2 separate regions of the Homo sapiens genome follow, and region 1 is linked to region 2. The links come from fine-mapping of genetic effects on gene expression. A gene starts in region 2. The other region holds a variant in brackets. All regions are shown on one strand. Distances are between the middles of the regions.

Region 1 (15,808 bases), 570 kb before region 2:
ACTAGCATGTACCACCAAAATATAGGCTGTAAATGTCCAAGAGATTTTTTTAAAAGCATTGACAGTTATCTTCTTGGGAGAGAATGAGGTAGATTAGACCAGGACAGATCTAGCAAAGCCACCATGAGGGCAAAGTTTGGGGTGTCCCTTTATCTCGTTTCTTGTCTTCTTCCTCTTTTTGGTATTATTCTTTTTTTTTTTTTTTTTGTGAGACAAAGTCTCACTCTGTTGCCCACACTGGAGTGCGGTTGGCACAATCTCGGCTCACTGCAACCTCCGCCTTCTGGGTTCAAGTGATTCTCCTGCTTCAGCCTCCTGAGTAGCTGGGATTACAGGCATGTGCCACCACACCTGGCTAATTTTTGTATTTTTAGTAGAGACGGGGTTTCACCATGTTGGTCAGGCTGGTCTCAAACTCCTGACCTTGTGACCCGCCCGCCTCAGCCTCCCAAAGTGCTGGGATTACAGGTGTGAGCCACTGCACCTGGCCTCAGTATTATTCTTTAACTGCTTTCTGATTCCACCCATCCACCCAACCACGGAACTGTAAATATTGTTATCTGTGAACATTTGTCAAAAAGAAAGTTGATGTGTCACCAGTACCTTACAGTGAACTTGTTTGATATTTTAAAATCAGTTTAGAGGGAGGACAAACTAAAATAATGCATTTTTTTATTGATATGTCATATTTGTACATTTTTATGGGGTACATGTGGTATTTGTTACATGCACAGAATGTGTAATGATCAAGTCAGGGTATTTAGAGTATCCATCATTCTATGTGTTGGGAACATTTCAAGTCCTCTCTTCTAGGTATTTTGAAATATATAGTACTTTGTTACTCTGGCGTCAAATATTACAATTAATTCCTTCTATCTAACTGTCTGTATTAACCAACCAACCTCTCTCTTTATTCCTCCCCCACCCCCTACACACCCTTCCCTGCCTCTGGTAACTATCATTTTGCCCTCTACCTCCACGAGGTCAACTTTTTTAGCTCCCAGATATGAATGAGAACATGCAATATTTGTCTTCCTGTGCTTGGCTTATTTCACGTAATATAATATCCTCCAGTTTCATCTATGTTGTTGCAAATGACAAGATTTCATTCTATAGCCAACTTAGATTTCATTATGTATTTGTAAACTATTCATCCAACAAGGGACAAATATCCAAAATATACAAGTAACTCAACAGCAAAAGAACTAATAATCCCATTAAAAAGTGGGCAAATAATGCATTTCTAATGTAAGAATTTTATACCCTGCACACCTACCTTGGAGGGTGATGGGGGAAAGCAGGGCTTCCCCACCTCTTCTAACCAGAATGTGTAATACTGCCTATTCTGCCCACAGTGAAAGCAGGCCCTGTGAGCACACCATTGCTCATGCCCCAGGAGAAAATTGAGCTAAGTCACAAAGAAATGCAATAGACCAAATTCATTTTTAAATGTTCATTTTTAAAAATGTTCACCAATGATAAAAATAAATTCAAATATAAACAATATATTTTAATAGGGAAAAAATTCAACCTTTTTGGAGGCAACTTAGCACTCTATATCCAAAAACCTTAAAGAACAAGACAGAATAAACAACTATGTGAGTGTGTGTGTGTGTGTGTGTGTGTGTGTGTGTGTGTAGCTGCATGTACATATATCCTTTGACATAGCAATTCAACTTCTGGGAATTTTGGGTGAGTAGAGGCCAGAGGTGATACTAAATATTCTACAAAGCACAGAACAGTCCCTCACAACAAAGAATAATAAGAAAAATTCGATCCAAAACATCAATATTGCCTGGGCTGAGAAAATCTGCACCAGAGCATGTGATCTCAGGGAAAGCAAAGAGGGAACACAATGCCTTTTACAGTCTAGTTTTGGAATCACACATCGCTACTTCTGCTACATTCTATTCTTTAGAAATAAGCCACTAAGCACAGCCCACACTCAAGAAAAGCAGAATCAAGCTTCATCTTTTGAAGGAAAGAGTATCACAGAATTTGTGAACATATTTTAAGACAAGACCAATCTGTCCTCTAGCCACAAATTACTTACATTCTTTTCATATGTAAAATATACTTACCCCCACAGCCCCACCCTTACAAAATCCTCCCATAACCCCTTTACAGCATCAGTTTGGAATCCAGAATGTTAGAATCTGAATCAGGCCCAGGTACAGATGAAACTGCTTAGATGTACTTCCTAAGTACAATTATTCTAATGCATTTCCTTTCAATCTGAAGACAGAAAGGTATATGCCTATCCCTCCCACCCCCACCCTCTGTAACATCACCCAACATATAATAGTAGAACAGACACAATATAATCACCATATACAATCATATTCCAAAAATAGGAGAAAAATAGAGGCATACAGGAGTCACTGCTCCATGGCAATTCTGTAAAGCAGCCAAGGAAATTGTAGAAGGTCCTCAATTAGAACTTTGTTCAACTAGGAATAATTCTGCATGGCCTTTGTTTCCACTTTCTTGGTTATGTCCTCTGAGTCATCTGTTCTATAATGGAAGCACATATGTGTAGCTGAGAAGTTCTCTCAGTCTGCTTTCTGCCAGTAGAACTATGGAGATCCAGAGGCCTCTTTTCATTTCATACTGTCTTTGTCCCTTTTAGTCCAAGCTGGCAGTTTTTATTCCAATACAATTCTTTGAAAAACTTTACAGATTTCCTGTGACTCTTATTGGGTCCATGCCATTTTTCAAAAGCCAAATCTACAAATCAATTCAAGATAAGCCCTTCTCTACCATGGGCTTCTGGTGAAGAACAACATCTTCAGCTTCTTAGAAGCTTTATTTGTTTGATCAAAAGAAACTGTAGCACACCTAAGAAAATTTTAGGGAGCCTTTTGTCTAGTTGAACAGTACGCTGAGGCAACACCTTTTATCTTTCTGAGGTCTTAACAAAGGATTTAACAGTTACATCCTTACATCCTTGGAGTCTTCTTTAGACCATGTTTTCCTGGCAATGTCCTGGATTTTGTCTTTGCCCCATATCATTCCTTAATTTAAACATTATCTGCTATCCAAGAGGCTAGACATTTCGAAACCATAAAATCCTGGTTCCTCTTTTTAAGCTGTCCTGCTTTAGCTTATCTATTTCTTCTTGCATTTTGCTGTAAGCAGCAAATGAAAACCAGGCAGTATCTTCAACATTCTGTATGAAAATCTCCTTCGTTAGATCATCCAGCTCATCAGCTGCCTTTTCTACATTCCATGTGGGCTAAACTTTTTGCTATTTCATAACAAGGAGACTGTTTCTCCCACTTTCCAATAACATTACCTCATTTTCCTACAAGCTGTCACCTCCTCAAAGGCTTCTACTAACAGTGTTTTTAAGGCCCTTGAAGCTTTTACTAACAGTCTTCTCAAAATTTTCCAGCTTCCACCCCACTACCCAGTTCTTCTCCCTCCCACACTTTAGGTTCTTGTTATAGCAGCACTCCACTTCCAGGTAACAAAATCTATATTAGTTACCTATTACTGCTTAACAAATAAATCTTAAGCTTAATGGCTTAAAACAACAAACATTATAGTGGTTTTTGTGATTCAAGAATTCAAGAGCAACTTTGTGGTTCTGGCTCAGGACCTCCCGTAAGACTACAGTCAGGATGTCAGCAGGGGTTGCAGTCTCATCTGAAGACTTACTAGGGACTGGAGGATCCACTTCCTAGATGGCTTGCCCCATGGCTGCTAGAAGAAGGCTTTAGTTCCTTGCTATGTGGGCCTCTCCATAGACAACTTTAGTGTCCTCACAACATGGCAGCTAGACACTCCCAGAGCAGATGATCCAAGTGAGAACAAGAAGGAAGCCACAATTTCACCTGATGTGATTGGGACTCAGAAATCAGGCATCATCACCTTTCCCACATTGTCTTCATTAGAAGCAAGTCGCTAAGTACAGCCCACTAACTACAGTCACTAACTACACTTGAGTGGAGGGAATTAGACACCACATTTTGAAAAAGTATCAAATAATTTGTGGACTTTTTTTTTTTTTTTTGAAACAGAGTCTTGCTCTGTCGCCCAGGCTGGAGTGCAGTGGTGTTATCTCGGCTCACTGCAAGCTCTGCCTCCTGGGTTCAGGACATTCTCCTGCCTCAGCCTCCCGAGTAGCTGGGACTACAGTTGCCTGCCACCATGCCCAGCTAATTTTTTGTATTTTTTAGTAGAGATGGAGTTTCACCGTGTTAGCCAGGATGGTCTTGATCGCCTGACCTCATGATCCACCCGCCTTTGGCACACCAAAGTGCTGGGATTACAGGTGTGAGCCACCAGCCTGGCCAATTTGTGGACATATTTTAAAACAAACACAAATCCCCAAATCAGGGGCTCTTTGGAATTTTCTAAAGAAATATGTCTTGAAACTGTTGAACTGGGAGAGAGAGAGATAATTGACTGTTTAGTTTGCTAAGTTAAGACATCATTTGAATTCACAGGTTTTTAGGATACCTTATGTGAAGCTAGAACATTGTTTGGAAAAAGTGAGACCCTGAATCCTGAAATGGGAACATATGGGAAGATACGGTGGGCTCCAAGTACCCTAAACTCCCAACCCTATGAAAATATGCTACTCAGATCATCTGCTGCAGAGAGCATCATTGGCTGGTGGACCAAATTGCTGCCTCCCTGGATCCTCCACCCTCACACTGAGGCCATGCTTCTCATGGGCTACCCCTAACCAATGACTGAGCATGCCAGAAGCACCAAGGTAGTCCCATTCTGGCAAGAAGTGAAACTCCTCCTCTAGGCAACTTCAACTTGAGGACTTCCTGCTGGACTGGCGAAACCTTTATTTGAATTGTGCTACAGTCCAAGATTCTTCTTACACCAATCTTCTTTCCTTCCCTTATTCCTTCCACAGATATCAGACAGGCATCACAGTCTAAAGCTCTCTCTATCTTTTCCCATTCCTTCCTTCAGTAAAGCTCAAGAACATCTATTCCCATCTTGCCATTGCTTCTTGGCACACCTGAATTAATGCAGCCTTCCTCGTCAGAGAAAATCTCCCTTCATGATGAGGCTTTTTCCATCTTTCATGAAGACTCTGTAATGTTATTCTTTGTGGGAGTAACCTTACTGGAGGTAGGGGAAAACAATTCTCTTCATTCTTTGCTCCTAACATCCCTCATTGCCTTGAATTCTATAGTCAATAAGGTGCTAGAGACAGGTTGTACCAACTCACAAAGGTCAACTGACAAATTTTCAAGAATTTAGTGAGCTGATTGCTAAACACAACCATTATTAAAACAAATTATATATACTTACAGTTAAATAAATGATGTGAAAAACAAAGATAATTACAAACTCATCACTTCCTAGTTGACAGCTTTTTATTATTATCTATGCTGCTCAGATTATTTATATGTATTATAACTGGGTGTTGGAAATACTCTATAATGGTGTGTCTTTGAATTTTGGAGACCAGATTTAGACATGCTGTTTCAGCTAGTTTTTTTAATAATCTGAGAGGTTGCCAATTTTGAGTGCAGCCTGAAGCAAGAGTATGCTTTCTCACTGGTCCAGGAAGCTCTGTCTTCTGATCCAGTGGATCCAATGTTATTGAAATGCCTGTGGCAGACAGGGCTGCTGAATGGAGCTTTGGAACATCCAGCACAGGCTCTGAGAGTTTTGCAGCCAAGCCACGGATTCTGTGGCATGTAACTTTTCTCCTTTTGAGAAACAGATTTTGGCTTGTTGCTGAGCACTGGTAAATACAGCAGCCTAATCTCATGGCTAGCACTCATCATAAGCTGGGGACTATCTGATTCACCACGCCATAAAGTCAGCTAACATTTAGTGTGTGTGCACAGTGTGCCAAGCTCTGCTCTAAGTACTTTACTTGCAACATTTCCTTTAATCCTCACCACATTTCTGGGAAATAGTACTGTTATTGTAATCATCCCTATTTTAGATGAGAAAATTGAAGCAGAGAGAGGATAAAAGCAATTTGACCATAGTCATATATCTAATAAGTGGCAGGACTTGGTTAGAACACAGGCCCCCTGGCTTCAAAGTACACATATTAAATTACCAAATTGTATTGCTTCTTATGATCAAGTGAAAGTTTCCTACATAAGATTGGGCTTGAGCAGAAATTGAAGACACAACAAATTGCATGGTGTTCCCACTCCTACCACATTACCATTTTTTCCTCAGCCTACACCTCTGACTTCATGGTATGTTCTCTAAGTCCAACTGACTAGACAGCAACCAGCACAATATGACAGCACCAGCCACAAGTAGACTACAGCAACATTATAGGCCAACTTGAGGGTGACCCTGAAGATCAACAAAGAGGAATCTTCCAGAAGGCAGAATTTTAAGCATTTTATCTTGCTGACCACTTTGTCTGAAAGGAGAAATGGTATGAGGCACAGATATCACCAGTTAATGGTCATTAGCTGACGGTGTAGCTCAGCAGCCAAGACATGGAAGGATCAAGAATGCAAGTCTGGTGACAAAGATGTTCAGAGGAAGAGGTATCTATGGGATCTCTGAGAATGAATCCAGAGTATGAGGATATTTGGTTCTTTGTGAATGCCACCCAAAGGCCCCCACTGGAGAGGAAGTGCTCAATAGTCAAGAGAAGAGGTTGACCTGGCTCCTGCATGCCAACTCTCTCCTTTCTGCAGGCACTCCAGTGTTGCCCAATGAGCGAAGTAGGCATAGTAGCAGAATCACAGGCTACACGGGGGTTTAGCAACTTGGATTTCCCTCATCAAACCTGATCTGGCCACTGCTTCTGTTAAATATTTATTTGTCCAGGAAATAAAACTAAAGTCCCTGATGTGAATTAGGTTTGAATGGAACAAAGCCAGGAACAATGTGCCTGGGGAAAGAAGTGGATTCCCTCCAGACTACCACTTCCCGTAGCCTCTGCTGCTCAGCACCTGAAAGCCAGACTGGCTTGCAGAGGATCAGCTCTCCCCTTGGTGCTCCCTTGGACTTCCAAACATGTGGGCACTTTAATGAGTTGAAACATTAAGAGAGTTTGGGAAATGCAGCCATTAGTTTTCCAGCCTCTACAGTAGGAAGGCAAGCTAGAAGGAGGTCATAATGGTCGTTGAATGAGTGGGTTCAAAGAATGTCCCAGACCTCTTCCATTATCATGAAAGGGGCAGTAATTTATCTTTACTGGAATAGTAACTTATTCTGGATTGGGATTTGCTGACCCTGCCTAACAAATTTCTGCCCACACCAACATTCATTATTTATTCTGCACCAGCAACCAATATATGCTGTTTTTCCCATATTCAGCATACATGGGTGTAGCATCAGGAGGAGCACCTCCTTCAGAACCACTTGCAAAACTGTTACTTCTTAGCCCCATGAACTGGGCTCTGGTGATTTAAAAGCTTGAGACAAGGTGTCTATCAGTAGAAAAAAAATAATAGTTCCATTGAATTAGAATCTGAGACTGCCACCTGGTCATTGTATGGACTCTTCATGATCCCTGAAGAACAAGAAAAGGAGAGAACTATATGAATCATCAACAGCAAGTGAAAACTGATTGACAGTAGAGTCATGGAAATCAAAGGACCCCTTGGAGTTCTACCTAGTGTTGTCATGTCTACTAATAAAAATGTCCTGGCTGGTCAGGACCAGCAAGACTCAGGCGCTTTGTGAATAAAGGTTTAGGTCACTCTCTTAAATATTTTGTAACAGTTAAGGGACTAGCCAAAGGTGAAAAGAATGTGAAATGGGAAGTGGAGAAGGGAAATTATATATAGGAACTATGGCCTCTTGACCAGTTGTAGAAATGAACACTGTTGCATCTATCTGCATTTTCTTCCATGTCATGTATATGCCATTTTTTTAAGTTTCTTCCTCTTGTCTCTTTCTCCACAAAGGGTGTGTTATTGGTGATCAAATTTACTATGTAGTCAGTTCAGCATACAGATTACTGAGATGAGGTCATCACAGACCCAGAGGATGAAATGCCAGCCCCCAGGGATTTTGTATTTGAAGGCAAATGCAGTAATGGATACAACTTTGAACTCATCACTTTTGAGAACATGATTGTGTCCTCTTCTGCAGGAGGGATGGTTGTATTAATTAGAAAAAAGGTTTTTTTGTTTGTTTGTTTCTTATGCTTTTTTCTTTATGAAAAAAGTAGATATTGATATTGGGCATTCAAGAGGCTAGTCATCTGAACTCCATATTCTAAGAGGCACCTGAACCCCCTGACCTATGGGGGCAGAGTCCCCTTACACTGTAGGAGCTAGAAATGCCATATACTACTTTTCTTTGCCTACTTCACTCATAGGCATGGATCTGGCTCCGCCAGTCAAGTGCCTCATCAGAGACCCTGAGATGAGTAGGCAGAACCCACACTGGGCATGGATGCTGCTGCTGGGTAAGGTGCTGGCACTGGTGTTGCATCTATGTTCAAAGACAGCAGTGGAGGTGGCCCTGGGGGTAACTCCAGCATCCGATGATGGTGACTTCTGTGCTGGTTGCCATGTCTACGCCAAGGGCATCAATAGAGATGTGTTCACCAGCTCAGTTTTGAGGCATGAATTCGGGTATTGTT[C/T]CTGGGAGGGCAGACTCAAATCCGAGCCTCTGTCCATAAAGATATTCTGTGGATCAAGATGAAAAGCAGAGGATCTCGGAAGATGAATAGGAACAGCTCCTATCTGCAGCTACCAGCAAGAACAACGCAGAAGGCGGGTGATTTCTGCATTTCCAACTGAGGTACCCTGTTCGTGTCATTGGGACTAGTTAGGCAGTGGGTGTGGCCCATGGAGGGTGAGCAGAAGTAGGGTGAGGCCTTGCCTCACCCGGGAAGTGCAAGGGGTTGGAGACCTCCCTCCCCAAGCCAAGGGAAGCCATGAGGGACTGTGCTATCTGGCCCAGATACTACGCTTCTCCCACAGTTTTTGTAATCTGCAGACCAGGGGATTCCCTTGTGTGCCTACAACACCTGGACCCTGGGTTTCAAGCACAAAACTGGCCAGCTGTTTGGGCAGACACCAAGCTAGCTGCAGGACTTTTTTTTTCGTACCCCAGTGAGGCAGAACTGTTCACTCTCCTGGAAAGAGGACTGAAGCCAGGGAGCCAAGTGGTCTCGCTCAGCAGGTCCCACTCCTATGGAGCCCAGCAAGCTAAGAACCACTGGCTTAAAATTCTCGCTGCCAGCACAGCAGTCTGAAGTCAACCTGGGACACTCAAGCTTGGTGGGGGTAGGGGCGTCCACCATTACTGAGGCTTGAGTAGGTGGCTTTTCCCCTGACCATGCTAAGGACTGGGTAGAACCAAACAAAGCAAAGCAAAGTGACTGTGGCCAGACTCCCTCACTAGATTCCTCTTCACTGGGCAGGGCATCTCTGAAAGAAAGACAGCAGCCCCAGTCAGGGGCTTATAAATAAAACTCCCATCTCCCTGGGACAGAGCACCTGGGGGAAGGGGCAGCTGTGGGCGAGCTTCAGCGGACTTAAATGTTCCTGCCTGCCTGCCTGCTATGAAGACAGCAGTGGATCCTGACAAGGAGGATTCTCCCAGCACGGCACTCAAGCTCTGCTAAGGGACAGACTGCCTCCTCAAGTGGGTCCCTGATCCCTGTGCCTCATGACTGGGAGAAAATTCCCAACGAGGGTTAACAGGCACCTCATACAGGAGAGCTCTGGCTGGCATCAGGCTGGGGCCCCTCCAGGATGAAGCTTCCAGAAGAAGGAGCAGGCAGCAATCTTTGCTGTTCTGCAGTCTCCACTGGTGATACCCAGGCAAATAGGGTCTGGAGTGGACCTCCAGCAAACTCCAGCAGACCTGCAGCAGAGGGACCTGACTGTTAGAAGAAAAACTAACAAACAGAAAGCAGTAACACCAACATCAACAAAAAGGACACCCACACAAGAAACCTCATTCAAAGGTCATCAGCCTCAACGGTCAAACATAGATAAATCCATGAAGATAAGGAAAAAACAGTGCAAAAAGGCTGAAAATTCCAAAAACCAGAATGCCTCTTCTTCTCCAAATGATCGCAACTCCTCTCCAGCAAGTGCACAAAACTGGACAGAGAATGAGGTTGACGAATTGACAGAAGTAGGCTTCAGAAAGTAGCTAATGACAAACGCCCCTGAGCTAAAGGAGCATGTTCTATCCCAATGCAAGGAAGTTAAGAACCTTGACATAAGGTTACAGGAACTGCTAACTAGAATAACAAGTTTAGAGAAGAACATAAATGACCTGATGGAGCTGAGAAACACAGCATGAGAACTTCGTGAAGCATACACAAGTATCAATAGCCGAATCGATCAAGCAGAAGAAAGGATATCAGAGATTGAAGACCAGCTTAATGAAATAAAGCATGAAGACAAGATTAGAGAAAAAAGAATGCAAAGGAATGAGCAAAGCTTCCACAAAATATGGGACGATGTGAAAAGACCAAACCTATGATTGACTGGGGTCCCTGAAAGTGATGGGGAGAAAGGAAACAAGTTGGAAAATACACTTCAGAATATTATCCAGGAGAACTTCCCCAACCTAGCAAGACAGGCCAACATTCAAATTCAGGAAATACAGAGAACACCACTAAGATACTCTCGAGAAGAGCAACCCCAAGACATATAATCGTCAGATTCACCAAGGTTGAAACAAAGGAAAAAATGTTAAGGGCAGCCAGAGACAAAGGTCGGGTTACCTACAAAGGGAAGCCCATCAGACTAACAGTGGATCTGTCTGCAGAAACCCTACAAGCCAGAAGAGAGTGGGGGCCAATATTCAACATTCTTAAACAAAAGAATTTTCAACCTAGAATTTCATATCCAGCCAAACTAAGTTTCATTAAGTGAAGGAGAAATAAAATCCTTTACAGACAAGCAAATGCTGAGGGATTTTGTCACCACCAGGCCTGCCTTACAAGAGCTCCAGAAGGAAGCACTAAACATGGAAAGGAAAAACTGCTACCAGCCACTGCAAAAACACACCAAAATATAAAGATCAGTGATACTATGAAGAAACTGCATCAACTAATGTGCAAAATAACCAGCTAACATCATGATGACAGGATCAAATTCACACATAACAATATTAACCTTAAATGTAAATGGGCTAAATGCCCCAAATAAAAGGCACGACTGGCAAATTGGATACAGTCAAGACCAATCAGTGTGCTATATTCAGGAGACCCATCTCACATGCAAAGATACATATAAGCTGAAAATAAAGGGATGGGGGAATATTAACCAAGCAAATAGAAAGCAAAAAAAAAAAAAAAAAAAAAGCAGGGGTTGCAATCCTAGTTTCTGATAAAACAGACTTTAAACCAACAAAGATCAAAAAAGACAAAGAAGGGCATTACATAATGGTAAAGGGATCAATGCAACAAGAAGAGCTAATTATCCTAAATACATATGCACCCAATACAGGAACACCCAGATTCATAAAAACAGTTCTTAGAGACCTACAAAGAGACTTACACTCCCACACAATAATAGTGGGAGACTTTAACACCTCACTGTCAATATTAGATCAACGAGATAGAAAATTAACAAGGATATTCAGGACTTGAACTCAACTCTGGACTAAACAGACCTATCTACAGAACTCTCCACCCCAAATCAACAGAATGTACATTCATCTCAGCACCACATAGCACTTACTCTAAAATAGACCACATAATTGGAAGTAAAACACTCCTCAGCAAATGCAAAAGGAGAAGAATCATAACAAACATCCACTCAGACCACAGTGCAATCAAATTAGAACTCAGGATTAAGAAACTCACTCAAAACTGCATGTCTACATGGAAACTGAACAACCTGCTCCTGAATGACTACTGGTAAATGACAAAATTAAGGCAGAAATAACGAAGTTCTTTGAAACCAGTGAGAACAAAGATACAACGTTCCAGAATCTCCAGGACACAGCTAAAGCAGTGTTCAGGGGAAATTTGTAGCACTAAATGCCCACATCAGAAAGCAGGAAAGGTCTAAAATCGACACACTAACATCACAATTTAAAGAACCAGAAAAGCAAGACCAAACAAATTCAAAAGCTAGCAGAAGACAAGAAATAGCTAAGATCAGAGCAGAACTGAAGGAGATAGAGACAAGAAAAACCCTTCAAAAAATCAAACAATCCAGAAGCTGGTTTTTTTAAAAGATTAGCAAAATAGATAGACTGTTAGCCAGACTAATAAAGAAGAAAAGAGAGAAGAATTAAATAGACACAATAAAAAATGATGAAGGGGATATCACCACTAATCCCACAGAAATACAATCTACCATCAAATAATACTATAAACAACTCTACTCAAACTAGAAAATCTAGAAGAAATGAATAAATACCTGGACACATACACCCTCCCAAGACTAAACCAGGAAGAAGTTGAATCCCTAAATAGACCAATAACAAGTTCTGAAATTGAGGCAGTAATTAACAGCCTACCAACCAAAAAAGGCCCATCAGTGCAAAAATCCTTAGTAAAATACTGGCAATCCGAATCCAGCAGCACATCAAAAAGCTTATCCACTGCAGTCAAGTCGGCTTCATCCCTGAGATCCAAGGCTGGTTCAATATGCACGAATCAATAAACATAATCCACCACATAAACAGAACAAATGACAAAAACCATATGATTATCTTAATAGATGCAGAAAAGGCCCTCAATAAAATTCAACACCCCTTCCTGATAAAAACTCTCAATAAACTAGGTACTGATGGAACAAAATAATAAGAGCTATTTAGGACAAACACATAGCCAATATCATACCGAATCGGCAAGAGCTGGAGGCATTCCCTTTGAAAACTGGCACAAGACAAGGGTATCCTCTCTCACCACTCCTATTCAACATAGTATTGGAAGTTCTGGCCAGGGCAATCAGGCAAAAGAAAGAAAGAAATATTAAATTAGGAAGAGAGGAAGTCAAATTGTCTCTGTTTGCAGACAACATGATTGTGTATTTAGAAAACCCCATCGCCTCAGCCCCAAAATCTCCTTAAGCTGATAAGCAACTTCATCAAAGTCTCAGGATACAAAATCAATGTGCAAAAATCACAAGCATTCCTATACACAAATAATAGACAAGCAGAGAGCCAAATCATGAGTGAACTCCCATTCACAGTTGCTACAAAGAGAATAAAACACCTAGGAATACAGCTTACAAGGGACGTGAAGGACCTCTTCAAGGAGAACTACAAACCACTGCTCAAGGAAATAAGAGAGGACACAAACAAATGGAAAAACATTCCATGCTCATGGAGAGGAAGAATCAATATTGTGAAAATGGCCATAACTGTCCAAAGCAATTTATAGATTCAATGCTATTCCCATCAAGCTATCATTGACTTTCTTCATAGAACTAGAAAAAGCTACTTTAAATTTCATATGGAACCAAAAAAGAGCCCATATAGCCAAGATAATCTTAAGCAAAAAGAACAAAGCTGGAGGGATCATGCTACCTGACTTCAAACTATACTTCAAGGCTACAGTAAACAAAACAGCATGGTACTGGTACCAAAAAGACAGATAGACCAATGGAACAGGACAGAGGCCTCAGAAATAACATCACACATCTACAACCATCTGATCTTTGACAAACCTGACAGAAACAAGCAATGGGGAAAGGATTCCCTATTTAATAAACGGTGCTAGGAAAATGGGCTAGCCATATGCAGAAAACAGAAACTGGACCTCTTCTTTACACCTTATATAAAAATTAACTCACGATGGATTAAAGACTTAAACATAAAACCTAAAACCATAAAAACTCTAGAAGAAAACCTAGGCAATACCATTCAGGACATAGGCATGGACTAAGACTTCATGACTAAAACACCAAAAGCAATTGCAACAAAAGCCAAAATTGACAAATGTGATCTAATTAAACTAAAGAGCTTCTGCTCAGCAAAGGAAACTATCATCAGCATGAACAGGTAACCTACAGAATGGGAGAAAATTTTTGCAATCTATCCATCTGACAAAAGCCTAATATCCAGAATCTACAAGGAACTTAAACAAATTTACAAAATAAAACACAAACAACCCCATCAAAAAGTGGGTATAGGATATGATCAGACACTTCTCAAAAGAAAACATTTATGTGGCCAACAAACATATGAAAAAAAGCTCATCATCACTGGTCATTAGAGAAATGCAAATCAAAACCACAATGAGATACCATCTCATGCCAGTTAAAATGGCGATCATTAAAAAGTCTGGAAACAACAGATGCTGGAGAGGATGTGGAGAAATAGGAATGCTTTTACACTGTTGATGGGAGTGTAAATTAGTTCAACCATTGTGGAAGACAGTGTGGTGATTCCTCAAGGATCTAGAACCAGAAGTACCATTTGACCCAGCAATCCTATTACTGGGTATACACCCAAAGGATTATAAATCATTCTAGCACATGTATGTTTGTTGAAACACTATTTACAATAGCAAAGACTTGGAACCAACCCAAATGCCCATCAATGATAGACTGGATTAAAGAAAATGTGGCACATATACTATGCAGCATAAAAAAGAATGAGTTCACATCCTTTGCAGGGACATGGATGAAGCTGGAAACCATCGTCCTCAGCAAACTAACACAGGAACAGAAAACCAACCACCACATGTTCTCACTCATGAGTGGGAGTTGAATAATGAGAACACATGGACACAGGGAGGGGAACATCATACACAGGGGCCAGCCAGAGGGTGGAGGGCAAGGGGAGGGAGGGCATTAGGACAAATACCTAATGCATGCAGGGCTTAAAACCTAGATGACAGGTTGATAGGTGCAGCAAACCACCATGACACATGTATACCTAATGTAACAAACCTGAACATTCTGCACATGTATCCCGGAACTTAAAGTAAAAGTTAAAAAAAAAGATACTCTGTGGACAGAATATGTTTTTAATAAATAATTTCCTTTCAATAAATCCTTTTTTGATTAAATTATTCCCTATATGTTTCATAGAAAAAAATCTAGGATACATTCCAATGAGCAAAGAGCAGTTACTGCTAACTCTATAGGAAGAATTAGTATTTTCTATGTTCTTTTTGCTAGTCTATGTTTTCTGATTTTCCTAATATGAGCATTAACTTTTTTTTAGAGACAGGATCTCACTCTGTCACCTAGGCAAAAGGGCACTGGCATGATTATAGCTCACTGCAGCCTTGAACTACTGGATTCAAGCCATCCTCCTGACTTGACCTCCCAAAGCACTGGGATTATAGGAGTGAGTGGTCACACCCAGAGAGTATTAACATTTTAAAATAAAATATAATTTTTAAAAGGTAATTAAAATACATGTCATCTTGAGTTTCCATTAAACCTTCTGACCTATGACCTTATGTTATAGATACACATTTATTATCAACACTAACATGCCTGTCTTAGTCCATTTGTGTTGCTACAAAGGAATACCTGAGGCTGGGTAATTTTTAAGAAAAGAAATTTATTTGGCTCATAGCTCTACAGGGTGTACAAGAAGCATGGTGCCAGCATCTGCTTCTGGTGAGGGCTTCAGGATTCTTCCACTCGTGGCAAAAGGCAAAGGGGAGCTAGCATGTGCAGACATCACATGGTGAGAGAACAAGCAAGAGAGAGGAGGAGGAGCCAGGCTCTTTACAATAACCAGTTCTCACAGGAACTAAGAGTGAGAATTCACTCACTCCTGTGAGAATGGCACCAAGCCATTCACGAGGGATCCACCCCCATGACTCAAACATCTCAAACCAGCCCCCATGTCCAACACTGGGGATCAAGCTGCAACATAAGATTTAGCGGGGCCAAACAGACCATATCCACCCATGGCAATGCGGACAAAAGGAAAAAATATCTCAGTAAATTTAATTCAA
Region 2 (15,808 bases):
GGACACTAGTGTAATACAGCTTGCAGTATTTTTTCACAATTCTTTTTTTTAAGTATTCAGTAACTACTTAACTGACAGGAAAAAATAAAGAACAGGAATGGCAATTAAAATGCTAACTCTAATCAATCAATCATTTATCCAACAAATATTTGTCAAGCACCTAATATTGATTTAATTTTATGATATAATCTTACCTTGAAATTTAAAACATAGTTGTACCTTCCTAAAACAGAATTTCCCTAACTGTAAGACAAATAATTCATGCTAATAGTCAATTCACTTATGTTTTAGATGAAATAAAAATATTATTGTTTTAGATTACAAAAGTCATTTTTTTTTTTTTTTGAGACGGAGTCTCACTCCATTGCCCAGGCTAGAGTGCAGTGGTGCGATCTTGGCTCATTGTAACCTCCACCTCGTGGGTTCAAGTGATTCTCCTGCCTCAGCCTCCCTAGTAGCTGGGATTACAGGCACCTGCCACCATGTCCAGCTAATTTTTGTATTTTTAGCAGAGACAGGGTTTCGTCATGTTGGCCAGGCTGGTCTCAAACTCCTGACCTCAGGTGATCCACCCGCCTCAGCCTACCAAAGTGCTGGGATTACAGGCGTGAGCCACCAGGCCTGGCCCAGAAATTTGTTTTAAATTTAACTCTGTTACTGAGAAGACTTTATTAAAACAGCAAAAGCAAATCTTATCTTCATATGACCTAAATTATTATAATCTATAAAAAGAGATGTGGGAACATTAAAAAATCAAACACAAGTCTCTTTGTAGACAAATCCAATGAATCCATTTCCATTATAGTTACCTTAAGTCAGCCAAGTAATATACTGCTTCATTTATTCTCCATGCTCTTTCCCATAAATGAACTATGCTTTTCAAAAGGACATCGTTTTAAGCAAGGGGTCATAATGAAACATGTCTACCAAATAACCTATCACAAATGCTAGCATCTCAAAATCTAACACCACAAAAGTTTTTCTGTAATCCCAGCACTTTGGGAAGCTGACAGGAGGATTGTTTGAGGCCAGGAGTTCAAGACCAGCCTGGGCAACATATTGTGAGCCTGTCTCTTTAAAAAAAAAAAAAAGTTTTCAAATTAATGGTGAATAACTTTTGACACAAAAAATGTTTATGGCACTTCTGCTTGAGGTATAAAAATAATAAGCATAACTTTACTATACCTACAACAGACAAAAAGCAGAGTACAAAGCAGTAATATTAATAATAAAAGGTAAATACATAAAAAGAAAGAGGAACAGTATTTGGTATCAACAAATGTATATAAGGAATTCTAATATTCTTTCCTAATCAGATTCAAGAGTAATGTTTTTAATGAAATAAAGGAAAATAAAGAAAAAGGCATCAGAATTATATATCCTCTTGGACAATTTTTCCCTAAGTATGCTTCTCAAAATAATAGATAACAAAGTTCCCTAGAGGAAAAAAAAAGGTCTGGTCAGATAAATTTGGCAAACAGCTTACTTTTTATCTACATTTTAAAAATATCTGAAACTATAACACAGTGCCTGCTTACAAAACCTTGCATAAATACTAGAGGTTTTTTCTTTGTTAGTGGTCGTTGCACACACTTCTTTGCTGACAAAATTTTTTTCATGGACATCTATTCAAATTTTTTGAAGCATACCTTGGTAATGCTACGGCATGTATAATTTAAATGATTCTAACTTTTAAATGAACCCTATATAATCTACAAAATTAACCTTCCAAAAAGCCATGTAGTATTCAATAGGCCCTACTTAAAAAGAGTGCTTCGATATAGAAATGACCAAAACACAAATCATTATTACAGTTCTCTCCGACATTGTTATTGCAAAACAGGCCAAGAGAGAAAACACATTCCAGTTATGACATTGACCTGGTTATTAATGTAGAATACATCAACCCAAATAGGAATTTCAGACTACACATTTATAGTAACATGGTATAAAATGTGCTTGACTAAACGAAAACTATGTCTAAATTTAAGTCCACACTCTTTAATAACAATTTTTATTAAAAGAAAATATGGCTGTGTTTATATTGTTAGCCCTTCTGCTTTCTGAGACAGCTGATGAAAGTTTGATCTGGAAAGAGACCCCATAACAATGTTCTAATTCTGTATGCTTTTTCTGGACATTAGCAACTTTCATGTCTCGGGGTCCAACTTGAGAACAGAAAATGCCTCTATGATTCATCATCAAATGTAGTTAACACTTGCTTGGAATTTTCAAGAAACTAGCTTTAAAAAAGGTACAAGTTGGGGGCTGGGCGCAGTGGCTCACGCCTATAATCCTAGCACTTTGAGAGGCCGAGGCGGGCAGACTGCCTGAGCTCAGGAGTTCAAGACCAGCCTGGGCATCACAGTGCAACCCTGTCTCTACTAAAATACAAAAAAATTAGCCTGGCGTGGTGGCGTGCACCTGTAGTCCCAGCTGCTCGGGAGACTGAGCCAGGAGAACTGCTTGAACCCAGGAGGCGGAGGCTGCAGTGAGCCGAGATTACGTCACTGCACTCCAGCCTGGGCGACAGAGCGAGACTTCGTACCCCACCCCCCTACCCAAAAAAAAGGTGCTAGATAGAAGGCAGATATAACACTAAGCACACATAAGCTTACATTCAAAAGCATGAAGTCCCTGGTGGTCTAGTGGTTAGGGAAAAAGAGAAAACTAAAAAACAAAAGCATGAGTAGGATTTGTACTATAATAATATGCACCCAGCAAACTGTGTCAAGGCTAAAGAGGCTTCAATCACCAGAAATCAGTGTCAAGTAAAAAAGAGAAATGAAATGTAAAAGTACCCGACTCTGGGGCCAGGTGCCGTGGCTCACACCTGTAATTCCAGCACTTTGGGAGGCCAAGGCAGGCGGATCACGAAGTCAGGAGATCGAGACCATCCTGGTTAACACGGTGAAACCCCATCTCCACTAAAAATACAAAAATTAGCCGGTGTGGTGGCAGACACCTGTAGTCCCAGCTACTTGGGAGGCTGAGGCAGAAGAATGGCGTGAACCCGGGAGGGGGAGCTTGCAGTGAGCCAAGATTGCGCCACTGCACTCCAGCCTGGGCCACAGAGCGAGACTCTGTCTCAAAACAAAACAAAACAAAAACAAAAACAAAAGTACATGACTCTAAAACAGAAAAAGTTTAATGTGGATGAAATTCTGAATTTAAAATATCCAGTACTTTATAGAATTGACTATCCTATGATAAAATATTTACTACTTGACAGGTTCTCAAGAACATCTTTCTTTTTGAGACAGTCTCGCTCTCTCGCCCAGGCTGGAATGCAGTGGCACAATCTTAACCACTCAGTGGTTGCTCACTGCCAACCACCGCCTCGATTCTCCTGCCTCAGCCTCCTGAGTAGCTGAGATTATAGGCATGTGCCACCATGCCCAGCTAATTTTTGTATTTTTAGTAGAGACAGGGTTTCACCATAAAAATGTGCTTGACTCCAGAAAGGAGTTTGGCCAGGCTGGTCTCAAACTCCTGACCTCAAGTGCTCCATCTGCCTTGGCCTCCCAAAGTGCTGGGATTATAGGCGTGAGCCCCCGGCCTGAAGAACATCTTAATATCAGTCCAAAGTTACTCTTAACTAAGAGTATGAAAAGCTAGATACTATACAATCAATCACATAACTCTCACACATTTAAAAGATACTTAAATTCAATAAGAAAAAAAAAAACAAGAAAGCAGTCAAAGCATTTAGTAAATATGAAAAAATCCCTTAAGTAAAAAGCTTGACACAATGAACTTCATTTGAGAACTTCAGTTTCTAGTCTTTAAAAAGTGTTTTAGTACCTAGTAACGTAAGTTGCTATAATTACAGATCTGTGATTTCTTTCAAATAAAACTATAATTAATTCATTTCACAAGTATTTACTGGGCATCTACTACTGTGGAAAAACAAAGATTAAAATACATTATGAACCCTGCCCTAAAGACACTTTAAGAGTCTAGAAGGAATAAGATATATGCACACTGTAGTTAAAATGTAAAGGTAGCTCAGAAAGGAAAAAGCATCTGAAACGTGCTGGGGGAAAGTACAGATTAGGGGAGGCGCTGATGATGAATTTAAATAACAGGTCTAATTCAGACAAAGAAAAGAGCCCTTCCATTGGAAAAAAGATGTTAGAAAAAGCAAGAAAGATGGAAAGCCACCATGAAAAAAATTTAATTTTGCAGAAATGGAAAAAACTACAAAATAATAAATGATAATATAGAAGCTAGGGGTTCCAAGCTCTGGTAACTCAAATATCCTGGCCAGACTAAATCATCAATTAAAACATCTAAAATTGTATATACACTCCACTGATGCTCTATAAATACTTCTAAATTAGTAATCCATGACCCCTTTTACCTGTTGTACTTCCTGGTGGAACGAAATAGTGAAACAAATTTTATTCATACTGTACCTCAGAATAATAATTTTCAGAAGGCAAATTGCTTTATTGTGGAGGTGATTAAAAAGAAAAAATAGAAGACAAATTACTTTTCCAATTTTAAATGTACATACTCAAAGTTAGGCAAGAACAAGAAAGGACCCTTTCAGTTTATATATACAACATACGCAAGTGATACTCAAGTTTCACTTTGAAATTGTGATATAAAAACTATGTTGTTCCATCCACAGTGGCAAGATCAAAATGTTCTAGCTCCAACTCTTCAACCTTGTGCAAGCTACTTTAGTGCTCTGTGACTATAAAATGAAGAGGCTCTATCTGGGACTTTCTAGCTTTAAAATCCTATACACTGTGAATTCTATTCCATCTTTTCTACAGAAGTCACTGTGACAAGGCCAATAATAACAAAAACAGGAAAGGGTATTCTTCGTTCAACCCACACATAGTAAAAATTACCTCTCATTATACATCTACTAAGTGCCAGGCTCTTTCTACTTATTTCACTTAATCTTCATTACATCCTAAAAAGCAGGCATTTTCCTCATTTTACTTAGAGGGTATTAGCTATCTCTTACATATCCAATCCAATCAGGGGTGGAAAGCCAGGATTCAAATCAAAGTCTAACTCCACAAAGCAAGCTGTAATAAACCATATTTCATAACCTGGTGCCACAAACACAAATATCAGACAAAAAAGTGGTGGGCTGTGATTATGGTATGACTCTGGTAATCTAGACAGAACATGATCTTCTAGTAGGGTAGCTCAGGCTGCCTTGTTGCCAAGTGGGAATGGATGAGTGAAGCCAAATGTGTGCGTGTGTTACAGTGAGAGACAGAAAAGTGATTTTCAAATGAAAGAAACAGATTTACCGGCTTTCATCTTATGCTTTAAACAATTCTAACCAGACCTGCGCAGTTATTTTTTTTTTTTTTGAGATGGAGTCTCTTCATGCTGCCCAGGCTAGTCTCAAACTCCTGGGCTCAAGCGATCCTCCTGGCTTAGCATCCCCTTAGCTGGGATTATAGGCCTGTGTCACTGCGACTAGCTGCAGTTAATTTTAGTAATACTATATAAAGTTCCCAAAAAGTATTGAAATACAGGCATGAGCAATAAAGTGAAGGCTTTGAAGTAAGGTACCTCTTGGTTGAATCCTGGCTCTATTATTAGCAGTGTGACATTGGTCAAGTTACTTCACCCCTTTTTTTTTTTTTTTTTTTTGAGACAGAGTTTCGCTCTTGTTGCCCAGGCTAGAGTGCAATGGCACGATCTCTGCTCACCGTAACCTCCGCCTCCCGAGTTCAAGCGATTCTCCTGCCTCAGCCTTCCGAGTGGCTGGGATTACAGGCATGTGCCACCACGGCCGGCTAATTCTGTATTTTTAGTAGAGACGGGGTTTCTCCATGTTGGTCAGGCTGGTCTCGAACTCCCGACCTCAGGTGATCCGCCGGCCTCAGCCTCCCAAAGTGCTGGGATTAGAGGCGTGAGCCACCGCGTCCGGCCTACTTCACCCCTCTCAGTCTCATTTTTTGACTTTTAAGGTGAGAATACTCTCACCTATCTTGCAGGGTAGTTAACGATTAAAGCATAATGTGGAATATAAAGAGCTCAGCACAGAACCTAGCACAAGGTAAGAGCCTGACAAATGAAAGCTACTATATTATCCCTCAGGATCCCATTAACAAAGTTAGCCATTAAAGTGTTATACTTAGTCTCTTTTATGTAGATCTAAAATTCTTCTCAAATAAAAAGTTTATTTCAAAAAGGCATACACCCTCGATTCCATTAAACACTAACCAAACTTCAAAATAAGTGTATTCTAAACCTAGAATCTAAGCAACTATTAAATAATGTTTTCAGCGGCTAACCATTTTTTTTTTTTTTTAAATAACGCCGCAAATCATGTCATTAGGAGTTCAGGCAGAAAGCGGTGGACGTGTCCCCAAAGCAGTTTGAGCGCTTAAGATCCCTACTACGTTCAAGGTAGCATTTGCCAAATGATATATATTTGGGTGAGCCCGAAAAGCCGGATCTGAACAAATAACACCAGGCAGAACGACCGCTCTTCCAGTTGATGGGACAGGAGCAGGTGGATTTGTCCTTCAAAGAATATCGTTTTATTCTTAGCCAAATGCTCTCACCAACAGCTGGGTTTTAAACCTTCTCGCAGTTTTCCCCAACGCCCCAGTTTCAGACTGCGAGGGAGGGAGCAGGACTTCAGGCTCCTCTCGGCCAGTGCAGACGAGCGAAAGAGAAAGAGGGAGGGGCCCACGGCCCCGAGGGGCGTGGGAGGCAGTTCGGGCCAGCTCGGCCGCGCATCCGTCCCTTCCCGTGCGGTACCACCTGCGGACCACTCTCCTAGCCCGAGCTTCAGGGCCTACAGAGCTGCGGGGCGCGGCCGCCGTCAGTCCGGCCGAACGGCAGCAATGGGGACTGAGCTGGGGGCGTGATTGAATAACTCTGGGATTTCAGGAGCGGAAGGAGGGCAAAGGGGGAGGCGGCATGTGGATGCCCCCTCCATGGTGGGACGCTGGAGGTGACCTTCGGGTCTCCGAGTGCTCCGTCCCCGTCCCTGCCCGGACCCCTTCCCAAGTCCCAGACCCGCTGCTCCTCTCACCGTCTCGGCTTCTGTGTGCTGGGGTCCGGCACTCTGACCCCCCATTACCCCGCGGAGGAAATTCATCTTGCCGTTCAGCCACCAGGTTTACCGGCCCCTCCGGAAAAAAAAGAAGACAACTTCCCCCGCCCTCCGCAGGGCCTGGGCCCCAATCCCGCACTCTACACACTCCTACTGCTGCCACCACCGCCTCCAACTCGGCGGCCACTCCAGCCCTCTAAGCCCGGAAACAGCCGCCAGCAGCGGCCAAGATGCGCATGCGCGGGGACGTGGCATTACGTGGCGGCTCGAAGGTTGAAGGCAAAAGGGGAGCGGAGGCGAGAGGAACCTCTTAGCTAGGTTCCGCCGAAGCCCCACCCACTGCGCAGACCCCGCCTCCCACCGCAGGGGCACGCCTCCTACCCCCACCCTTCGCGGATTGATCCTGCTGGCCGCAGCCACCCACGTGGTGGAAGCCCGGCCCTGCAGGCTGGAGAGGATTTGATTAGACTACGCGTTTCGACTTGCAGGGTGTTTAATCGTCGCCAAGCGGGACTTACTGCAAGCTATCAAATCTGAGGTCTTATTTTGTTGAGTCGAAAGTGAAATTTTCCTTTGGCCAACGTGACAGGTAAGGCTTCCTGGCGCCTGAGAGGGTTCGCTTGGTTTGACGGTTTACTGGTACCAGCATTGTGGCTTTCTGATCCCGGTAAATTGCATTTCTTTACAGGGCTTTGTTTGGTGGTAAAAAGGGTTACTAGACACCCCTCATTCCACTGCCACTGGAGGGCGCATTTCTCAGCTCTTGCTCTTCAAACCTGCTGAAAGGAATTCCTAGATCTAAACACCAGGTACACCTCTATTTTCAAGTGTCGTCAGGAGGAAACCCATCAAACCCTACATTTAGCTTACTAGAGAAATACATTGTTCTGCTGTGTCAGTTTGGCGAGTAACATAATGTTTCGTTATTAACTCTCAACCCCTGTGTTTTCAGTTTTTTTTTTTTTAACATGAAAAATTGTCATTTTCTCTAATTGGTATGCCTGTTCCTTTGGCAGTGAGGTTGTCAGTACACATGCTTCTGGAATAGTCTTGTAAATTTCTTGAGGCTAAAAAGCACAGGTCTAGTTAGCTAACTGACTCATGCACCTCTCCCCTTGGATTCCCCACAGGTCTCAGATTCAGCATTTAAAATTGAACTCGTCATCTTTCCCTGCCTCCCTTAAAGAAAAAAAGTCAATATGCTGCTTCTACTGTGTGCGTGCCGTGCTCAGTAGTACCACTGTCCAAATAATTGCCTAAGCTAGACAGAGGAAGCTGGGAAGAATCTTAGACTCTGGCTTTCCACCCACACATGTCCAATCAATAGTCATGTCCTATCATTTCTATTTATAGAATATTTCTCAAATAGGTGTTCTGCTCTCCATCCTCTGTGCCTGTGACATAGATTATGTTCTTCTCATCATTTCTCATTGAGATGACAGCAACAGCCTCCTAATTAGTTTGTCTGCATTCAGCCCTGGCTTCCTTCCAGTCCAATCTCCAGTCCATCCTTGGGTGAGACTAACAACAACAAAACATCTGTTCATGTCATTCCTCTTAAAATCCTCCAGTTGTTCCCCATTCTGTCCAGAATAAAGTGCAAACTCCTTAGTTTGTCATACAGGCCTGTTATGATTTAGCTCCTGCCTACTTTTTCAGCTCCTGCCTCCCCCACATACTCTGGGCATTTTTCTCAGACCTGGATATGCCCTTCCCTTCCTTTCTCTTCATCAAGCAAACTCCTGCTAATTCCTTAAGGCTCAACTCTGACATCATTCTTGAAAGCTTTCCCTAAAATGTAGGTACACATCTATATGTTAGCACTTTGCAGTTATTGATACTGTATATGGTGTACATTGAATAAATGCTTGCTAAACCAAACTGTTAAGGGCAGGACTATGTTATTCATTTTATATCTCTGTTGCTTACCACTGTCTCATAAAAGGTGATATTGATGGATAAATGAATAAATTATTGAAAGAATATATGAATATTATACTAAGAGGAGGTTCCCTTTTTTTAATCTGTAAAGTGAAATTGTAGGGAAGACATCATAAGCTATGTGTTTCCTAGTGCCAACATTTTAAGCCTGGGCAACTTGGAGAATGGTGGGGTCATACTGCCAAAAATACTGTGCGCTAAGCATTGTCCTCTGCTTTAAAGCTATACACTTGACATTTTACCGTAGACATTTTCCATGGGAGCATTTTGTTGCAGCCTAAAAAAAGTAACCAGTAAATTACTCAGCATTTTTGTTACTAAGAAATGCATGCAAAGAACTTCACTTAAGCCCCTAAGCCTCACCCCTCCCTGAACCTCACTTCACCTTGTCCCTGAAACTCACTCTACCCCATCATCAGGAATGAGGCTCATAGACGGAGTGGGCCACAAATGTCTATTACTCCTCTTATTTAATAATTAAAAAGAGTGCCTTGACATTTTAGCAAAGTTGTTTAAAGGCACCAGCCTTGTCAAATGTCCTGTTTTGTTTTAAACTTTGGTGGGTACAGTAGGTTACTGTACTTCAGTGAGTAAAGTAGGTTACTATACTTTCGTGAGTGTAGTAGTAACAGCTTACTATGAATTTTCCCTGCATTTGACCTGTTTTCTTCCCCAGCAGCATCCCCTGCACAGGAGTGATGGACAGTTGGGTGCAAAGGTGATGAAGGTGGGATCCCCGAGGCATTGTCACTACAGAACAACCATGAAATAGACTCCTTATTTCAGAGGAAGAGTTACATATTAATCCACTTCTACTGATTTTGTAGAGGGAGAAAAGTCAGGGACTGTGTTGTATTCCTGTTTGCATCCTTTAATCATCTAGTATAATTCCTTTAATATGGTAGATGCTCAGGAACTACCTGAGTTAATAAAGGAAGAGAAAACTTGAACAAATTGTGACGGCCTGACTTGCACTGTTAATACTTCTGGCTTTCATAAATCTAAGCATTCAGGATAAGAGTCCTATGAATCATTAAAATACATATAATCAAAATTAAGAGTGATCTTTTTCTAAACCAAACCTGACAATAGATCAACGAACAAAATTCATTGGTTTGAAATTCATTTTTTCAAATTGCTTTTTTCAGTGGCCCACTTAACTTTCTAGTGGAAAACTCGCAAAAACAACGAAATATAATTGCATAAGATTGTTTTTTAGTTGGGGTGGTAGTAAGGTGGAATGTTGTCTATGCCTGCTTGGGAGGATAAATATAAATGATCATTTGTATTTGAAATCTATCATATATAGGTTTTTATTTATTTATTATTTTGGTAGGTTATAAGCCCCTTCAGTATCGTATATAGGTTTTTAAAGACGTAGCTCATGGCTATAATCCCAGCACTTTGGGAGGCCAAGGTGGGAGGATCATTTAAGCTCAGGAGTTCAACACCAGCCTGGGCAATGTGGCAAAACCCTGTCTCTACAAAAAATAAAATATTAGCTGAGCATGGTGGCATGCGCCTGTATTCCCAGCCAGTAGTCCCACTTACTTGGGAGGGTGTGGGAGGATCGCTGGAGCCTGGGAGATCAAGGCTGCATTGAGCCATGATTGTGCCACTGCATTCCAGCTGGGAGGATGGAGTGAGACCCTGTCCCAAAAAAAAAAAAAAAAGACTAGTTGAGGCTGGGCGAGGTGGCTCACGCCTGTAATCCCAGCACTTTGGGAGGCTGAGGTGGACGGATCACCTGAAGTTGGGAGTTCCAGACCAGCCTGACCAACATGGAGAAACCCCGTTGTCTACTAAAAATACAAAATTAGCTCGGCGTGGTGGCACATACATCCTGGAACTCCTGGGTTCAAGAGCTCTTCCTGCCTCAGCCTCCTGAGTAGCTAGGACTACAGGTGCACACCATCATGCCTGGCTAATTTTTTTTTTTTTTTTTTTTTTGTAGAGATGAAGTCTTGCTATGTTACCCAGACTGATGTCAAACTCCCGGCCTCAAGCTATTCTCCTGCCTCAGCCTCCCAAAATACTGGGATTGCAGGTGTGAGCCAACTGCCCCAGGCTTCAAAATATTTTTATTTATTTATTTATTTATTTATTTATTTATTTATTTATTTATTTTGAGATGGAGCCTCGCTCTGTCACCCAGGCTGGAGTGTAGTGGCGCGATCTCGGCTCACTGCAACCTCGGCCTCCCGGGTTCAAGCGATTCTCCTGCCTCAGCCTTCCAAGTAGCTGGGAATAGAGGCACATGCCACCATGCCTGGCTAATTTTTTGTATTTTTAGTAGAGACAGGTTTTCACCGTGTTAGTTAGGATGGCCTCGATCTCCTGACCTTATGATCCGCCTGCCTCAGCCTCTCAAAGTGCGTGAGCCACCGCGCCTAGCCCTCAAAATATTTTTTTTTTTTTTTTTGAGACGGAGTCTCGCTCTGTTGCCCAGGCTGGAGTGCAGTGACGCGATCTCAGCTCACTGCAAGCTCTGCCTCCTGGGTTCATGCCATTCTCCTGCCTCAGCCTCTGGAGTAGCTGGGACTACAGGCGCCCGCCACCGCGCCCGGCTAATTTTTTGTATTTTTGGTAGAGACGGAGTTTCTCCGTGGTCTCGATCTCCTCATCTCGTGATCCGCCCGCCTCGGCCTCCCAGAGTGCTGGGATTACAGGCATGAGCCACCGCGCCCGGCGCCCTCAAAATATTTTTAAAAGCCTTAGGAAATCCTTGGGAGAGGAGAGTCCAAGAAAGAAGGTTTTGGTAGCTGGGCGTGGTGGCCTATCATTCCAGCTATGCGCAGGAGGCTGAGGCATGAGAATTGCTTGAAGTTGCAGTGAGTCAAGATTGTGCCACTGCACTCCAGCCCAGGTGACGGAGTGAGACCCTTTCTCAAAAAAAAAAAAGGGTTCTGGGCCCCCCCATCCTGCTCCATTTGATTGGTTTCATTTGTTTATACTTCCTGTTTCGCTTGAACAAAAAGATTCAGAGGCTAAAATGTTGGACAGCTACCTCTCTCAGGAGATAAGAAATGAGACCAGGCCGGGCACGGTAACTCACCCTTGTAATCCCAGCACTTTGGGAGGCCGAGGCGGGTGGATCACCTGAGGTCGGGAGCTTGAGACCAGCCTGACCAACATGGAGAAATCCCGTCTCTACTAAAAATACAGAATTAGCCGAGCGTGGTGGTGCATGCCTGTAATCCTAGCTACTCGGGAGGCTGAGGCAGGAGAATCGCTTAAACTGGGAGGCGGAGGTTGCAGTGAGCCAGGATCTTGCCATTGCCCTCCAGCCTGCGCAACAAGAGCGAAACTCCGTCTCAAAAAAGAAATGAGACCAAGGTAAGGACTTGGAATAGTTGAGGTGTCTCACATGCTATAGAGCCCAGAGTTCCTGCTTTACTTTTTTTTAAAGGAATGGTAATTGTTGCCTCCTGTGGTTGTTTTTGGGATTTTATTAGATAATATCTGTAACGTTCATATTACTTAGTACTTGAAACATAGTAAGTACTCAATAATGATTAGAGTGGAGACCCTGATCATCTTCGGTATTATCAATTTCTTTTTTTTTTTTTTTTTTTTGAGACGGAGTCTTGCTCTGTCGCCCAGGCTGGAGTGCAGTGGCGGGATCTCGGCTCACTGCAAGCTCCGCCTCCCGGGTTCACACCATTCTCCTGCCTCAGCCTCCCAAGTAGCTGGGACTACAGGCGCCCGCCACTAAGCCCGGCTAATTTTTTGTATTTTTAGTAGAGACGGGGTTTCACCGTTTTAGCCGGGATGGTCTCGATCTCCTGACCTCGTGATCCGCCCGCCTCGGCCTCCCAAAGTGCTGGGATTACAGGCGTGAGCCACGGTATTATCAATTTCTTAACAACTGAACGTTTAAAGATATTACCCTGTAAGTCTTCAACTCCAGCCCTACTAGCTCATGTTACTGAGAAGTCTGTTACTTCAGATGAGGCTTAATCTGGGGTATCAAGCCAATTTCCCTGTTATCTGGGTTTTCACTATTTCTGGACTCTGCTCTCCTTAACTGTTTTTGTTTTTTTTTCTCTAGCTCCATGCGGGGCAAGATGGCTGCCAGGACCTATAGTCCTAGTATCCTAGGCCCAAGTTCATCAAAGACTCCCAACCTCTCTCCTAAGAGTCCCAGCAAAAGTCTCCTTGTGACTCATTTTACCTGATAGGGTCGCATGCCTATGTGGTGAGCTAATTCCTGTAGTTTAAGGTTTGAGATGTTCTGATTGGCCTTGAGTCACATTCCCACCTCTAAAGCAAGGAGTAGAAGTCTTCATCTCATCTCAAAGCATATGGCATAGGAGCTGGGGAACAGGGACATTCACATTTCTCCTAGGAAATCTGGAATAGTATGCCAGGAGAATGTTTATCAGGATAAGAAAAACAATACATGCTCACTGTATCCCCTAACGTACTTAAACTGCTTGCCAGTTTTTTTTGAAATTATTTTTCCAGCCTTATCACTAGTGTATGCTAGCATAAGTTCTGCCTCTCTGCAAAGATTCAAAAGATCATGTTACATTATTTAATAAACGTAATTTGACATTGCATTGTACTTAAATCAGCAAGCAAATCTATACCCTTTTTTTAAAGAAAGTATAACCCAGGTGTGTTTCCATTTTTAAGAAAATACAATAAGCAGAATTACTTATGAAACACCTAAAAAAAAAAAAGAAAGAAAGAAAGAAGAAACACCTAAATTAGGAAATCCCATTTTCATTTCCAAAGGACTTTTTATTTTTATTTATTTATTTATTTTATTTGTAATTTTTTTTTTGCGACGGAGTCTCATTCTGTCTCCAGGCTGGAGTGCAGTGATGCTACCTTGGCTCACTACAATCTCTGCCTCCCAGGTTCAAGCTATTCTGCCTCAGCCTCCCAAGTAGCTGGGATTATAGGTGCGTGCCAGCACACCCAGCTAATTTTTGTATTTTTAGTAGAGACGGGGTTTCACCATGTTGGCCAGGATGGTCTTGATCTCCTTACCTCGTGACCCACCCGCCTCAGCCTCCCAAAGTGCTGGGATTACAGGCATGAGCCACCACGCCTGGCCAAAGGACTTTTTATAAAACTGTTTATCGAGGGACAAGTTTATCAGATCCAGGCCCTAGCACTGTTTCTTGTGGAGAATTTGACTGTTACCTCCCAACACCATTGTCTCTCCCCCAACACCTCAAGCCAGCTGAACAAGTATGTCCTGAATAGCCAGGGTAGGGTTGCAGTCTTTACTGTCCCATTCAATAGCTAGACCAAAGCCTTTGAAGTTCGCATTGGGTGATGCCAAGATTCCATGTAAGCTTAAGATGATTTTAATGGAGTCATTGCCAACTTCCCAGCAAGCTATGATTTTAGAGTAGTTGGCAGCTGATCTCTGTCATTTGCCTGAGGCTATGCCCCAAGCAAGTATTTGTGGCAGGAGGGAGTGACAGAGTTGTCTCTTGAGATCAGACTGGGCCTCCAGGCCAGCAGATGGTAGCTGACCTGGACCAAAACTTTCCAAAGTCAGCCCACACTTCCAAGGTCCCCTCTCTGCAACCCCCTTCTCCCAGGCTCAAGCGATCCTCCCATCTCAGCCTCCTGCGTAGCTGGGACTACAGGTGTGCACTACCACACCCAGCTAATTTTTATTTTATTTTATTGTAGAGATGGGGTTTCACCGTCTTGCCCAGGCTGCTCTCAAACTCCTGGAGACCCACCCGCCTCAACCTCCCAAAGTGCTGAGATTACAGGCATGAGTCACCATGCCCGGCCATAATTCCAGTTTTTTAATGAAGTTGACTTTAAGATGCCAATGGCCTGTGATTGACAAATACACTAGGGAGATAATCAGGATGGGCTCAGTAACCTGCAGATGTTATGTGGAGGGTCCAGAACTGGCATAGGCAGGTGGTTTGGGAAAAGGAGAGGTAGTTGGGTGTGGACATAATTTTCTGCCAGTAGCTTAGGAGTCCATGGGCAGAGGGATGGAAGATGAGAAGATTGTAAGTACAAAGAGGCAAAGAAGAGAAGTCTTCTGTTTGGCCTCTGTCCCCTGATGCTTCCTTACAGGATCGCACAAACACCATACTAGTTGTGGGTGGTATAAAGAACTAGAAGAGGCCGGGCACAGTGGCTCACGCCTGTAATCCCAGCACTTTGGGAGGCCAAGGCGGGTGGATCACCTGAGATTGGGAGTTCGAGACCAGCCTGACCAACATGGAGAAACCCCGTGTCTACTAAAAATACAAAATTAGCTGGGCATGGTGGTGCATGCCTGTAATCCCAGCTATTCGGGAGGCTGAGGCAGGAGAATCGCTTGAACCTGGGAGGCGGAGGTTGCGGTGAGCCGAGATCGCGCCACTGCACTCCAGCCTGGGTGACAAGAGGGAAACTCTGTCTCCAAAAACAACAACAAAAACAAAACAAAGAAAAACAAAAAAAAACAAGAACTAGAAGAGGGCCGGGTGTGGTGGCTCACGCCTGTAATTCCAGCACTTTGGGAGGCTGAGGTGGGCAGATCACCTGAGCTCAAGAGTTTGAGACTAGCCTGGCCAACATGGTGAAACCTCATCTCTACTAAAAATACAAAAAATTAGCTGGCTGGGCATCATGGCACGTGCCTGTAATCCTAGCTACTTGGGAGGCCGAGACACAAGAATCTCTTGAACCTGTGAGGCGGAGGTTGCAGTGAGCTGAGATTGCACCACTGCACTCCAGCCTGAGTGACAGAGCAATACTGTGTCTCCAGGGGAAAAAAAAGAACTAGAAAAGCTCCAACTTGCCCTTCCCACTGCCCTCTCCCCACCTCCAATACCTACACACATGACCTTTTCA

Alleles and levels. Positions count from the first base shown, and alleles are read on the strand shown. Sizes are in standard deviations (SD) of each study's normalised expression.
For the expression in cerebellar hemisphere of the gene that starts at base 7,330 in region 2, T is the high allele of the variant in region 1 and C is the other (large effect, 1.2 SD a copy in GTEx).

The links.
Region 1: its variant is fine-mapped to the expression of USO1 in cerebellar hemisphere (GTEx, PIP above 0.99).

What each region holds. Positions count from the first base shown.
Region 1 is chr4:76,283,874-76,299,681 of GRCh38, reverse strand. All of the region lies in intron 6 of FAM47E-STBD1 (FAM47E-STBD1 readthrough), which reads right to left. Among named protein-coding and RNA genes, the nearest start is that of STBD1, 15 kb to the left of the region's middle. The variant C/T (reference allele first, on the strand shown) is at 8,549.
Region 2 is chr4:75,716,099-75,731,906 of GRCh38, reverse strand. USO1 (USO1 vesicle transport factor) reads right to left here and starts at 7,330. Exons shown (of 24, transcript NM_003715.4): 1 at 7,022-7,330. The coding sequence starts at 7,087. It also overlaps a transcript of G3BP2 not described here. RefSeq lists silencers at 6,862-7,039, 7,374-7,543 and enhancers at 7,124-7,203, 6,300-7,219, 7,220-8,140, 15,270-15,785.